Regions from separate parts of the Homo sapiens genome. Here region 1 is linked to region 2. Evidence: fine-mapped expression QTL. A gene starts in region 2. The other region holds a variant in brackets. All regions are shown on one strand. Distances are between the middles of the regions. Region 1 overlaps SEMA3F (semaphorin 3F). Region 2 holds the start of CYB561D2 (cytochrome b561 family member D2).

The links.
Region 1: its variant is fine-mapped to the expression of CYB561D2 in blood mononuclear cells (TOPMed, PIP above 0.99).

The regions. Positions count from the first base shown.
Region 1 is chr3:50,179,276-50,184,642 of GRCh38, reverse strand. SEMA3F (semaphorin 3F) reads right to left here. Exons shown (of 19, transcript NM_004186.5): 8 at 2,240-2,359; 9 at 1,860-1,999; 10 at 1,625-1,739; 11 at 1,388-1,457; 12 at 1,079-1,223; 13 at 1-51. Among named protein-coding and RNA genes, the nearest start is that of GNAT1, 9.7 kb to the left of the region's middle. The variant G/A (reference allele first, on the strand shown) is at 2,193.
Region 2 is chr3:50,348,211-50,353,577 of GRCh38, reverse strand. CYB561D2 (cytochrome b561 family member D2) reads right to left here and starts at 2,716. Exons shown (of 4, transcript NM_001291284.2): 1 at 2,594-2,716; 2 at 2,018-2,169; 3 at 1,532-1,569; 4 at 1-337. The coding sequence starts at 2,144. NPRL2 (NPR2 like, GATOR1 complex subunit) reads left to right here and starts at 2,803. Exons shown (of 11, transcript NM_006545.5): 1 at 2,803-3,003; 2 at 3,556-3,647; 3 at 3,745-3,913; 4 at 4,084-4,192; 5 at 4,568-4,704; 6 at 4,796-4,893; 7 at 5,015-5,051; 8 at 5,168-5,261; 9 at 5,337-5,367. The coding sequence starts at 2,926. LOC127898564 (CYB561D2-LOC101928965) reads right to left here and starts at 2,716. Exons shown (of 5, transcript NR_183066.1): 1 at 2,594-2,716; 2 at 2,018-2,169. RefSeq lists an enhancer at 2,542-2,761.

The DNA of each region.
Region 1 (5,367 bases), 170 kb after region 2:
AGGATAATCCTTGGTGGACTTCATAGATGGCGTGAAGGTTCCACCAGGGCACTGTGGACAGGTGGCGAGTGTCAGTCCCAGGCTGCCTGGGCAGGGCAGGCTGGAGCCATTAGCTTCAGAAGAGGCCGCTGCACTGTCTGTCCCCACTACCTCAACCTGCTCCTCTCCCCAAACCCGCTCTCCAAGTTTCTGCCCTGCACCTGACCTCTACAGGTCCTGCTCTGGCCAAGGTCCCAGGTGGCCAAATGCCACAGCCACCTCCCTGGCCTCAGGTGCCATGACCTCGTGGCAGCATTTGGCCAAGCGGACCACTCCCTTCCATGTCCCCCTCCCCACCCCTGTCATCTCCTTCCTCTCTGGTTGTTCCTAGGGTCTCACCCGTCTCCCTCCTGCACAGCTGGACTGCAGGCCCCGACGTCCTTGTCACACACCAGGCTCACTCTCCTCCTTCCTGAAGCTGTCCCCTGAACCTGGGCTCAGCCTGCCCCCCGTCATGGCCAGCTTACCTCTGGCCCATCCTTCTGACTCCAGGTTACCTCTGGAGGGAAGCTTCCCCTGTCCCCCACTGAGACCAGCTTCTCCAGCCCAGTCCTGACTACATGGAGTCAGAACTGCATTGGACCAGATCCGCTGCTCTCCTGCTTAGGCTCCCACATCAGCCGGTGTCACATCAAGATAAAGTGACATGCCTCTGTGACCTCTGAGACCCTGCCTGAGGCCTGGCCCTGCCCCTCCCCAGCTCTTTGCCTCCTGTTCCTCAGCTGAGCCAACCTCCAGCCTGCCTCCAGCACCTGCAGGGAAGACGCTTCCCCCCAACCTTCAGCTCCCAAACAGCCCCACAGAGGACCCTCTGAGGAGCAGCCGACCACGCCCAACCCACCATCTTTGTCCCAGAATCCCATCTGGGCTCCTCCACAGCTTGACACTGTGTGTGAAGGCCCGTCTGTGTGTGCATTACAGCTCACCGCCTCCGCTGGCTGGGAGGGCCATGATGGTGGGGCCCATGTTGCAAAGAGCCTGACCCAGAGGCCTCTTAGAAGAAGAGAAAGGGGAGAGGCAGGATGAGTGGGGTCCTTACCGTGCCCGGCCGTGGGTAGGGCATCTTCCCTGAGAAGGGCATCCACTGGTAGTTGGGCCCCTCTTTGTGGGCAAAGGGCCCGTTGAAGACCATGCGAATATCAGCCATGGAGTAGACACACACGGCAGAGCCTCGGAACACGGAGCTGTGGGCATGGCAGGCGCTGCTGAGCAGGACAGACCCTCCACCTAGGGCCCCTCCCCAAACTGCCCCCTCCCCACAGCTCGCCACCGGGCTGGGGTTCTCCACGAGTTACAATCCCCCAACGGGGCCACTCCCTGCCACTGCTGGCCCTGACCCCAGCCTCACCCAGAGGAGGTAAAGACAGCGTAAATGACAGGGTTCCTCACGTCCTGGGTCTGCTGGACAAACACGTCCTCTGGGGACAGAGGGAGAAGGTGTTGGAGGGTGCCATGGGCGGGAGCCCCTGGGCCCCACCCACTCCTGCACAGGGGAGGGGGCCCACCAAAGGCACCCTGATCGCCCATCCCGCCTCTATCCCTCTTGCTGTAGCCAGAGCACCCTGCCTGCCTGCTGGGCACTCACGGAGCTCATCAAAGTGAGTCTCAATGCCATCCTCGCCCGGGACAGAGCAGACGAGCCGCGCCTTCAGGAATGTGCTCCACTTGTTGACCAGGCAACAGTGACCACCGTCATCGTTCTGGGGGGTGGGGCAAGAGGCCGGGTCAGATCAGCTCTTGACCCCAAGCCCTGGCTGGAGCAGGGCTGATGAAGCCAGAACTGGTGGAAGGGGCAGCCTGGTGGCTCTGCCAATGCATACCAGGCAAATGCGCCCGATGCGGGCGTACACCGCGGGGCTCTGCGGCGCCTCTGCCGACCGCTCACGGAAGAAGAAGTAAAGCTTATCATCATTGCGCTCCGCACTGTCAGGAATGAGCTCAGCATGGATGAACGACGGGTCTGCAGGTGGCAGGGGTCAGCTGGGTGAGCCCCTACTCTGATGGTGCCCCTGATGTTCTCCAACAGAATCCCCAGCCAGGTGCAAGAACACCCCCAACTCCTCTCCAGATAAGAAACTACCCCTGCCCCAGGTAGTCATAGGCTAAACATGTCCCCACTTCCCCCACATGTGCTTCTTTACGACCTCCTTGCC[G/A]CATCCCAGACACATGGCCACGGAAGGGCTCCTGGGGCTGCGCTTACCGTTCAGCCACCGGGAGTTGTACTGATCCGTGCGCATGGCTGTCTGCTTTCCAAGTGTGCGGAAGATGGCTGCATCAGTGCCCATAAAATCGATGTACACACCAGCATAGAGCTCCTCATCTGTGGGTAGGCCAGTGGGTCAGTTGGGGGGCTGCTGTTTGCTAGGGCCAGGGCACAGCTCAGATGACTTCCAGGGCAGGGCCTTATCTCCCCGCTCAGGCTCCCTGGGGCATGATCCTATCTCCAGTGGAGTGCTGGTCAGTGTTTCACCACTGGCTCTGGGAGGGTTGGGATTAGTAACTATCAGCTCTGATTAGTAGCAATAGCCCATTTCTGTGGTGTGAATACTCCTGCCACAACTAATTTCAAGCTACCAACCTGAGGTCACTGAAAGCAAAATCAGGAAGAGCTGCCAACACCACTGTACAGTATTTCTACCCCACAGACACAACAAATGTAAATCACCTCAAGAGCATAGCTAATAGACCAGCTGCAGTGGCTCATGCCTATAATCCCAGCACTTTGGGAGGCCCAGGTGGGTGGATCATTTGAGGGCAGGAGCTGGAAGCCAGCCTGGCCAAGATGGTGAAACCCTACCTATACTAAAATACAGAAATTTTCTGGGCATGGTGGCAGGTGCCTGTAATCCCAGCTACACGGGAGGCTGAGGCAGGAGAATTGCTTGAACCAGGGAGGCGGAGGTTGCAGTGAGCGAGATCATGCCACTGCACTCCAGCCTGGGCAACAGAGCAAGGCTCCATCTTAAAAAAAAAAAAAGAGGCCGGGCATGGTGGCTTATGCCTCCTGTAATCCCAGCACTTTGGGAGGCCAAGGCTGGCAGATCATGAGGTCAAGAGATCGAGACCATCCTGGCCAATGTGGTGAAACCCTGTTTCTACTAAAAATACAAAAAAATTAGCTGAGCGTGGTGGTGCACGCATGTAGTCCCAGCTACTCAGGAGGCTGAGGCAGGAAGATCCCTTAAACCTGGGAGGCGGAAGTTGTAGTGAGCCGAGATCGCACCACTGCACTCCAGCCTGGTGACACAGTGAGACAACCGTCTCAAAAAGCAGGAACAAAAATAAAAAAAAAAAACACAAAAAAACAAAAAAAGAGCATAGCTAACAATAAAGTGTAGTGAAAGAATTAGGAAGCATATGCACACCTCAGTTTACTGGGCTTTGTGCACTGCAAATACTGCATTTTTTACAGAAGGAAGGTTTGTGGCAACCCTGTGTCAAGCAAGTCTGTTAGCACCATTTTTTCAACAGCATATGCTTACTTTGTGTCTCTGTGTCTGTGTCACAGTTTGGTAATTCTTCTTTTTTTTTTTTTTTGAGATGGAGTCTTGCTCTGTCACCCAGGCTAGAGTGCAGTGGCACCATCTCAGCTCACTACAACCTCCACCTCCCAGGCTCAAGCAACTCTCTTGCCTCAGCCTCCCAAGTAGCTGGGACTACAGGTGCCCACCACTACATCTGGCTAATTTTTGTATTTTTAGTAGAGACGGGGTTTCACCATGTTGGCCAGGCTGGTCTCGAACTCCTGACCTCAGGTGATCCACCTGCCTCGGCCTCCCAAAGGGCTGGGATTACAGGCATGAGCCACCGCGCCTTGCCTACATTTTGGTGATTCTTGCAATATTTCAAACTGTCTGTTATGGTGATCTGTGATCAGTGATCTTTGATGTTACTATTGCAATTATTTCGGGGCACCGTGAACCTCACCCATATAAAACAGTGAACTTAATCGATAAATGCTGTGTGTGTTCTGACTGCTCCACTTACTGGCCATTCTCCCATCTCTCTCCCTCTTCTTGGGCCTCTCCATTCTCTGGGACACAGCAATATTAAAATTAGATCAATTAATAATCCCACAATGGCCTCTAAGTGTTCAAGTGAAAGGAAGAGTCATATTATCTCTCACTTTAAGTCAAAAGCTAGAAATGGGCCAGGTGCAGTGGCTCATGCCTGTAATCCTAGCACTTTGGGAGGCTGAGGCAGGGGATCACTTGAGGTCAGGAGACCAGCCTGGCCAACATGGCATAACCCACTTCTACTAAAAATATAAAAATTAGCCAGAGGTGGTGGTGGGCGCCTATGATCCCAGCTACTTGGGAGGCTGCGGCAGGAAAATCACTTGAACCGGGGAGCAGGGAGTCGGGGGGTGGAGGTTGCAGTGAGCCAAGATCATGCCACTTCACTCTAGCCTGGGGGACAGAGTGTAACTCTGTCAAAAAATAAACAAACAAATAAAAAAAAACAAAAAAGCTAGAAATGATTAAGCTTAGTACGGAAAGCATGTTGAAAGCTGAGATAGGTCCCAAACTAGGCTGCTAGCACTAGTTAGCCAAGTTGTGAATGCAAAGGAAAAGTTCTTGAAGGAAATTAGAAGGGCTATTCCAGTAAACACACAAATGATAAGAAAGTGAAACAGCCTTATCACTGATATGGTGAAAGTTTTACTGGTTTACGTGGAAGATCAAACCAGCCACAACATTCCTTTAAGCCAAAGTCTAATCCAGAGCAAAGCCCTAACTGTCTTCAATTCTATGAAGGCTGAGAGAAGAGAGGAAGCTGGAGAAGAAAGGTTTGAAACCAGCGGAGGCTGGTTCATGAGGTTTAAGGAAAGCAGCCATCTCCAAAACATAAACATGCAAGGTGAAGTAGCAAGTGCTGATGGAGAAGCTGCAGCAAGTTTTCCAGAAGATTTAGATAAGATCATGGATGAAGGGAGCTACACTAAACACGATTTTCAATGCAGATAAAACAGCCTTCTGGCCAGGGCCAGTGGCTTACACCTCTTATCCCAGCATTTTGGGAGGCGGAGGTGGGAGGAACACTTTAGGTCAGGAGTTCAAGACCAGCCTGGTCAACATGGCGAGACGCTTTCTCTACTAATAATACAAAAATTAGCCGGGCATGGTGGCATGCGCCTGTAATCCCAGCTACTTGGGAGGCTGAGGCAGGAGAATCGCTTGAACCCAGGAGGCAGGGGTTGTGGTAAGCCAAGATGGTGCCACTGCACTCCAGCCTGGGAAATACGGCAAGACTCCATCTCAAAAAAAAAAAAAAAGAAAGAAAGAAACAGCCTTCTCGTGGAAGAACATGCCATCTAGGATTTTCACG
Region 2 (5,367 bases):
GGTAGCCCACCAGCCCAGAAGTAGCATGGTATAGCTTGAGCTTCGCCAGGGGCCATCGGGGCAGCAGCTTGGGGTAGAGCAGCCCCACCCCACCTGAGCACTGCAGCCCTGCCCACAGCACAGCCAGCAGCCCTGCCTGCCCATGCCGCGTAACCAGGTGGGCTTTGCCAAGCTGCTCTTTGTGGAGGATGACAAGGCCGAGGCCCAGCAGTGCACACAGCAGGGCCAGCAGCTGCAGCACCCAGTGGCAGCGTGCTCGGCCTTTCCGTGAGAGGGAGTGCAGCAGCGAACTCTCAGGAGAAAACACCAGTAGTGCCTCGGTCATCAGGAAGGAGAACTGAGGAAACAGGGGATGGGAAGCTCAAGTGAGGGTGCTGCCCCAGAAGAGGAGAAGAGGGCTTTATGTAACCCTTAGCTGCCAGTGAGTCTGGGCTGATTCCCCTTTTTCTTTCTCTCCCCACTGACAAGACTATCCATTTGGTGGGGCAAGAGTGGAAAACCCCATCTGGGATGATATATGTGCCCTGAATAATCTCCACACTTCCTCCTAGGTGCCAGTCTGAAATGTCATCTGTCGTATGTTACCAAGCAAACACAGGGTTTGAGATGTGGCAGTTATAAATGATTCACAAGCTTTGTTTCCCTAACGTGGGGCTGGATACAATTTCTTGGCAAGAGCTGGCCACATGGGTGCACTGTTTCAGGGAAAGTTAGGTGCATCACCAGAAATTAAAGTAAAAAGGGACAGAGGTACATCCAAATGCAATGTCTCAGCTTTCTGCCTAGAGGTGGGTGAAGCCTCATTGTGCTTAGACAAATCTTACCCATTTGACCTGGGTCCTGGGTCTTCATTACTCTGATTCAAGTCTCTTTTTTTTTTTTTTTTTTTTTTTGGAGATAGTCTCTCTCTGTCACCCAGGCTGGAGTGCAGTGGCCTGATCTCGGCTCACTGCAATCTCCGCCTTCCGGGTTCAAGCAATTCTCCTGCCTCAGGCTCCTGAGTAACTGGGATTACAGGCACCTGCCACCACACCCAGCTAATTTTTGGTTTTTTGGGGGGTTTTTTTGTTTTTGGGTTTTTTTTTTTTTTTGGGACAGAGCCTCGCTCTGTCGCCTAGGTTAGAGGTTAGAGTGCAGTGGCGCAATCTTGGCTCACTGCAACCTCCGTCTCCTGGGTTCATGCGATTCTCCTGCCTCAGCCTCCCGAGTAGCTGGGACTACAGGCGCGTGCCACCATGCCCGGCTAATTTTTTGTATTTTTAGTAGAGACGGGGTTTCACCATGTTGGCCAAGATGGTCTCGATCTCCTGACCTCAGGTGATGTGCCCGCCTCGGCCTCTAAGTGCTGGGATTACAGGCATGAGCCACCGTGCCCAGCCTCAAGTCTGAAATATATACCATGGGCAGGAGTAGTTGGAGCATGCAACTCTTCCAAACAGATATTAAATGTGGACAAAGATTCAGAGGCTGCCAGGGCCACCAACCATGCCCATGCTCCCACCCCTAAGAACTGCCCAGGCCCACTACTTACAGCCAAAGACATAAGCACCGGGTGCCAGGAGAACAGGCCTGGAATGAGAAGAGGAGGCCTCATGGGGCTGAGGCAAGAAGAAACCAGCCATACCAATCCTTAAGGGTTGAGGAATACCAGCAGCCCATCACCCAAGGAGGTGCTGCCAAACTGTGAGCCCCTTCTTGCTCTGCAACAAGCTGACCCCACACCTATCCTCTCTTCCTGGCCTCTTCCTGGATCAGAGGCCATGCTTTGCCACTCCTCTGGCAGTCCTCCCTCCTTCCCTTACACCTCCTGAGAGGCAGCCAAATGGAGCACCCAGAGAAGGAAAGACAAACCAGGAATTCTGTGTGCCCTGGCCATACCTACCTGCTCCACCTCACTCATCGCTCCAGCACAGAATTCCCTCAACCAGCCAGGCCTGTTCCCGGAAGTCCCACTGCCCTTCCTCCCCAGGAACAGTGGCCCTTCCCTTCCCAGAAGTCAGCTATGAATTCTACTTACTGGAGCCAGGCCTGGCAAGCACAGCCACAAAGATGGTAAAGCCCAGGGCCACAAGGTGGGCGGCAGCGCCAGAAGCAGTACGCAGAGCTCGGTAGATGTGTGACTCGGTCTCCGCAGAAAGGGCCATCGTCAGCCGTGCTAGTGGTTGTAGCCTGAAAGCATAGTAGCGTGGGCCAGGATCTCAGGTGCCCACTGTTCACTCCTCACTGGAGAAAAGGCTGCAAGGCAGGAATGCCACCCTCTTCCAATAAGTTATGGTAGGAAAGAACAGTACCAAGACCAGCACCAGGAATGGTCACAACATGCCAGTCGACGGCCGGCGGCCTGTCAACGTGTACCCATGTCTGAACTGGTACCAATCGCTGGCCCGCCTTCCAGGTAGGAGGCGCAAAGCCATGTAAGACTACAAATCCCAGCGTGTACCACGCCGTCGCCGGCAGTAGAGCCAGCTGGGAGGGCGCGGAGCACTATGGAAATTGTAGTTCCCTGCTGCGGTCCCAGTTACAGCGTGAATCCCTTAGCGCACCGCCTCCCCAAGTGCTGCCAGCATGCTGCCCCTCCACGCTAGGGACTTGCCTGCCTCTGCCGCAGCGCAGATCTGATGCGGTGGTTTCCTCCAAAGAAAGCGGGATACTCCGGGCCCTGCCGCGCGCACCGCCGCTCCGTCACGGAGCCGCTTTACTTCCGGGTGCGACGTCTACCCACCCAGGACTTCCTGGGACGAGCCGTCCCCCGCCCCAGCCACGCCTCTGAGTCGCGCTGCGCAGGCGCCATTGGGCAGAGGGATTGGCAAGCTTGCGTGCCCCAGCGACACAGGCCTCGAGGCTGTCTCTGACAAGTGTTCACAGGAGGTGGGGACGCCTCTGCGCGAGGAACGAGGAGCTACGGGCCTGGGCCCGGTTATTGCCATGGGCAGCGGCTGCCGCATCGAATGCATATTCTTCAGCGAGTTCCACCCCACGCTGGGACCCAAGATCACCTATCAGGTGCCACCCGGGCTCGCGGGACTGGGCGGGAAGAGGGACGTTCTCGAGAGCTCAACTGGCTGCCTGAAGGCAGTAGTTTCCCGTGCTGCACGCAGGCATGCTGCTTCATTCGCAGACAACTGTGAGGCTAGAGGATAGTCAGACCCAGGCCCCCGGCTCCCAATGTGGCAGGGAAGACATACGTCACATTGGCAGTGTTTGTAGGATATCGGGCTGTAGGGATCCGGTTGGGGGGTTCCAGGTCCCACAGAAGGTGAGTTGGGTGACCCATGAGTATCCCTGAACTGAGTGAAGAGTAAATGATGCATAGGAAGTTTAGGTAAGGCAGGAGAAAGTGTTCCAGGTAGAGGGAACAGCATATGCAGAAGCCAGGAAGGAGGTGAGATCATAGCGTATGTTTGGAAACAGAAAGAAGTAATAGGCCTGAGTGGATGGGAGAGAGGGGAACGCTGGAGAAGAGGACTTGGGCTTGGGGGGCATGAGGAGGTCACCATTTGTACTACACCCAGTACAGATGTCCACTGAGGGGCCCATTGCCACTCCCCTCCCCAGGTCCCTGAAGACTTCATCTCCCGAGAGCTGTTTGACACAGTCCAAGTGTACATCATCACCAAGCCAGAGCTGCAGAACAAGCTTATCACTGTGTGAGACCCTAGCTCGGGGTGAGCGGTGGGTGGCAGGGGTTGTCCCAGGAGGAGGAAGGGACAGGCTTGGGGGCCTGACTGTGTTCCAATTATCCAGCACAGCTATGGAAAAGAAGCTGATCGGCTGTCCTGTGTGCATCGAACACAAGAAGTACAGCCGCAATGCTCTCCTCTTCAACCTGGGCTTCGTGTGTGATGCCCAGGCCAAGACCTGCGCCCTCGAGCCCATTGTTAAAAAGCTGGCTGGCTATCTGACCACACTAGAGGTCTGCAATGAGATGGGCTTGGGTTTACCGACAGGCAGAGTTGGGGAAGGTGTTCCCATGTCTCCAAAGTCCCCCAAACCTGGGACCCTGCAAACCAGCTCAGGACTCAGGGCAGCCAACCAGCCAGGGGTCCTGGGATGTGCCCACCATGCTTTCCATGCTCTGTCTAGCTAGAGAGCAGCTTCGTGTCCATGGAGGAGAGCAAGCAGAAGTTGGTGCCCATCATGACCATCTTGCTGGAGGAGCTAAATGCCTCAGGCCGGTGCACTCTGCCCATTGGTATGGCCAGCCTCTGCAAGGACAGCAGAGGGGTAGAGGAGAGATGGGAAAGTGAACCCAGCTAGTCAGGGAGAAGGGCAAGACTCATGAACACATTGGTGGGCAGGAAATAGCCATGGGCTGAGGTGCCCATGTCCAGGGTCCAATGCATGATGGAGCTGGGACTGGGGGTAGGGGGAAAGCAGAGCTCTCCAGCTCTGCCCCTTGGGCAATTCCTTCCCCTTTGTGGGCCTCCGTTTCTCACTCCATAAAAAGAGAAAGATTAGCCCTACCCAGAGGCACCTGCTTGCCCCAAGGGATGCTGGGAGGCCTGGATGGTAATTGAGGACCTCTTGGAAGAAGTGGCACTGAGGATATGGATGGGGCCCCCTGCAGATGAGTCCAACACCATCCACTTGAAGGTGATTGAGCAGCGGCCAGACCCTCCGGTGGCCCAGGAGTATGATGTACCTGTCTTTACCAAAGACAAGGAGGATTTCTTCAACTCACAGTGGGACCTCACTACACAACAAGTATGCCATCCCTCCCTGGGTATCATCACCTGGGGCTGGCCACAGCCCTGGCCTCATCCTGTTTCTTCTGACCTTGTCCCACTCTGCCCAGATCCTGCCCTACATTGATGGGTTCCGCCACATCCAGAAGATTTCAGCAGAGGCAGATGTGGAGCTCAACCTGGTGCGCATTGCTATCCAGAACCTGCTGTGAGTGGGCCTACAGTCATACCTGGGACAAGGTCACCAGCCAGGGAAGACCTCAGGGGCCCTGGGTGTGAGGGTTGGGAAGGCATGGTCCTCAGAAGCTGAGCACAGCTCTCTCTCTCAGGTACTACGGCGTTGTGACACTGGTGTCCATCCTCCAGGTAGGTGAGTTGGGTTTGGTTAAGTGGAGAGTGGATCATGTGGCTGGACCAGACCAGGGCTGTGTCAGCTTCCCAAGCCCCTCACTCAGGCCCCTATGCCTTCTGCTACCCTCTAGTACTCCAATGTATACTGCCCAACGCCCAAGGTCCAGGACCTGGTAGATGACAAGTCCCTGCAAGAGGCATGTCTATCCTACGTGACCAAGCAAGGTAGTGGTGGGTTCTGGGGGAAGCCATCTTGGGGAGGGCAGGGCCACATGATGAGCTGATCCCTGGCACCCACAGGGCACAAGAGGGCCAGTCTCCGGGATGTGTT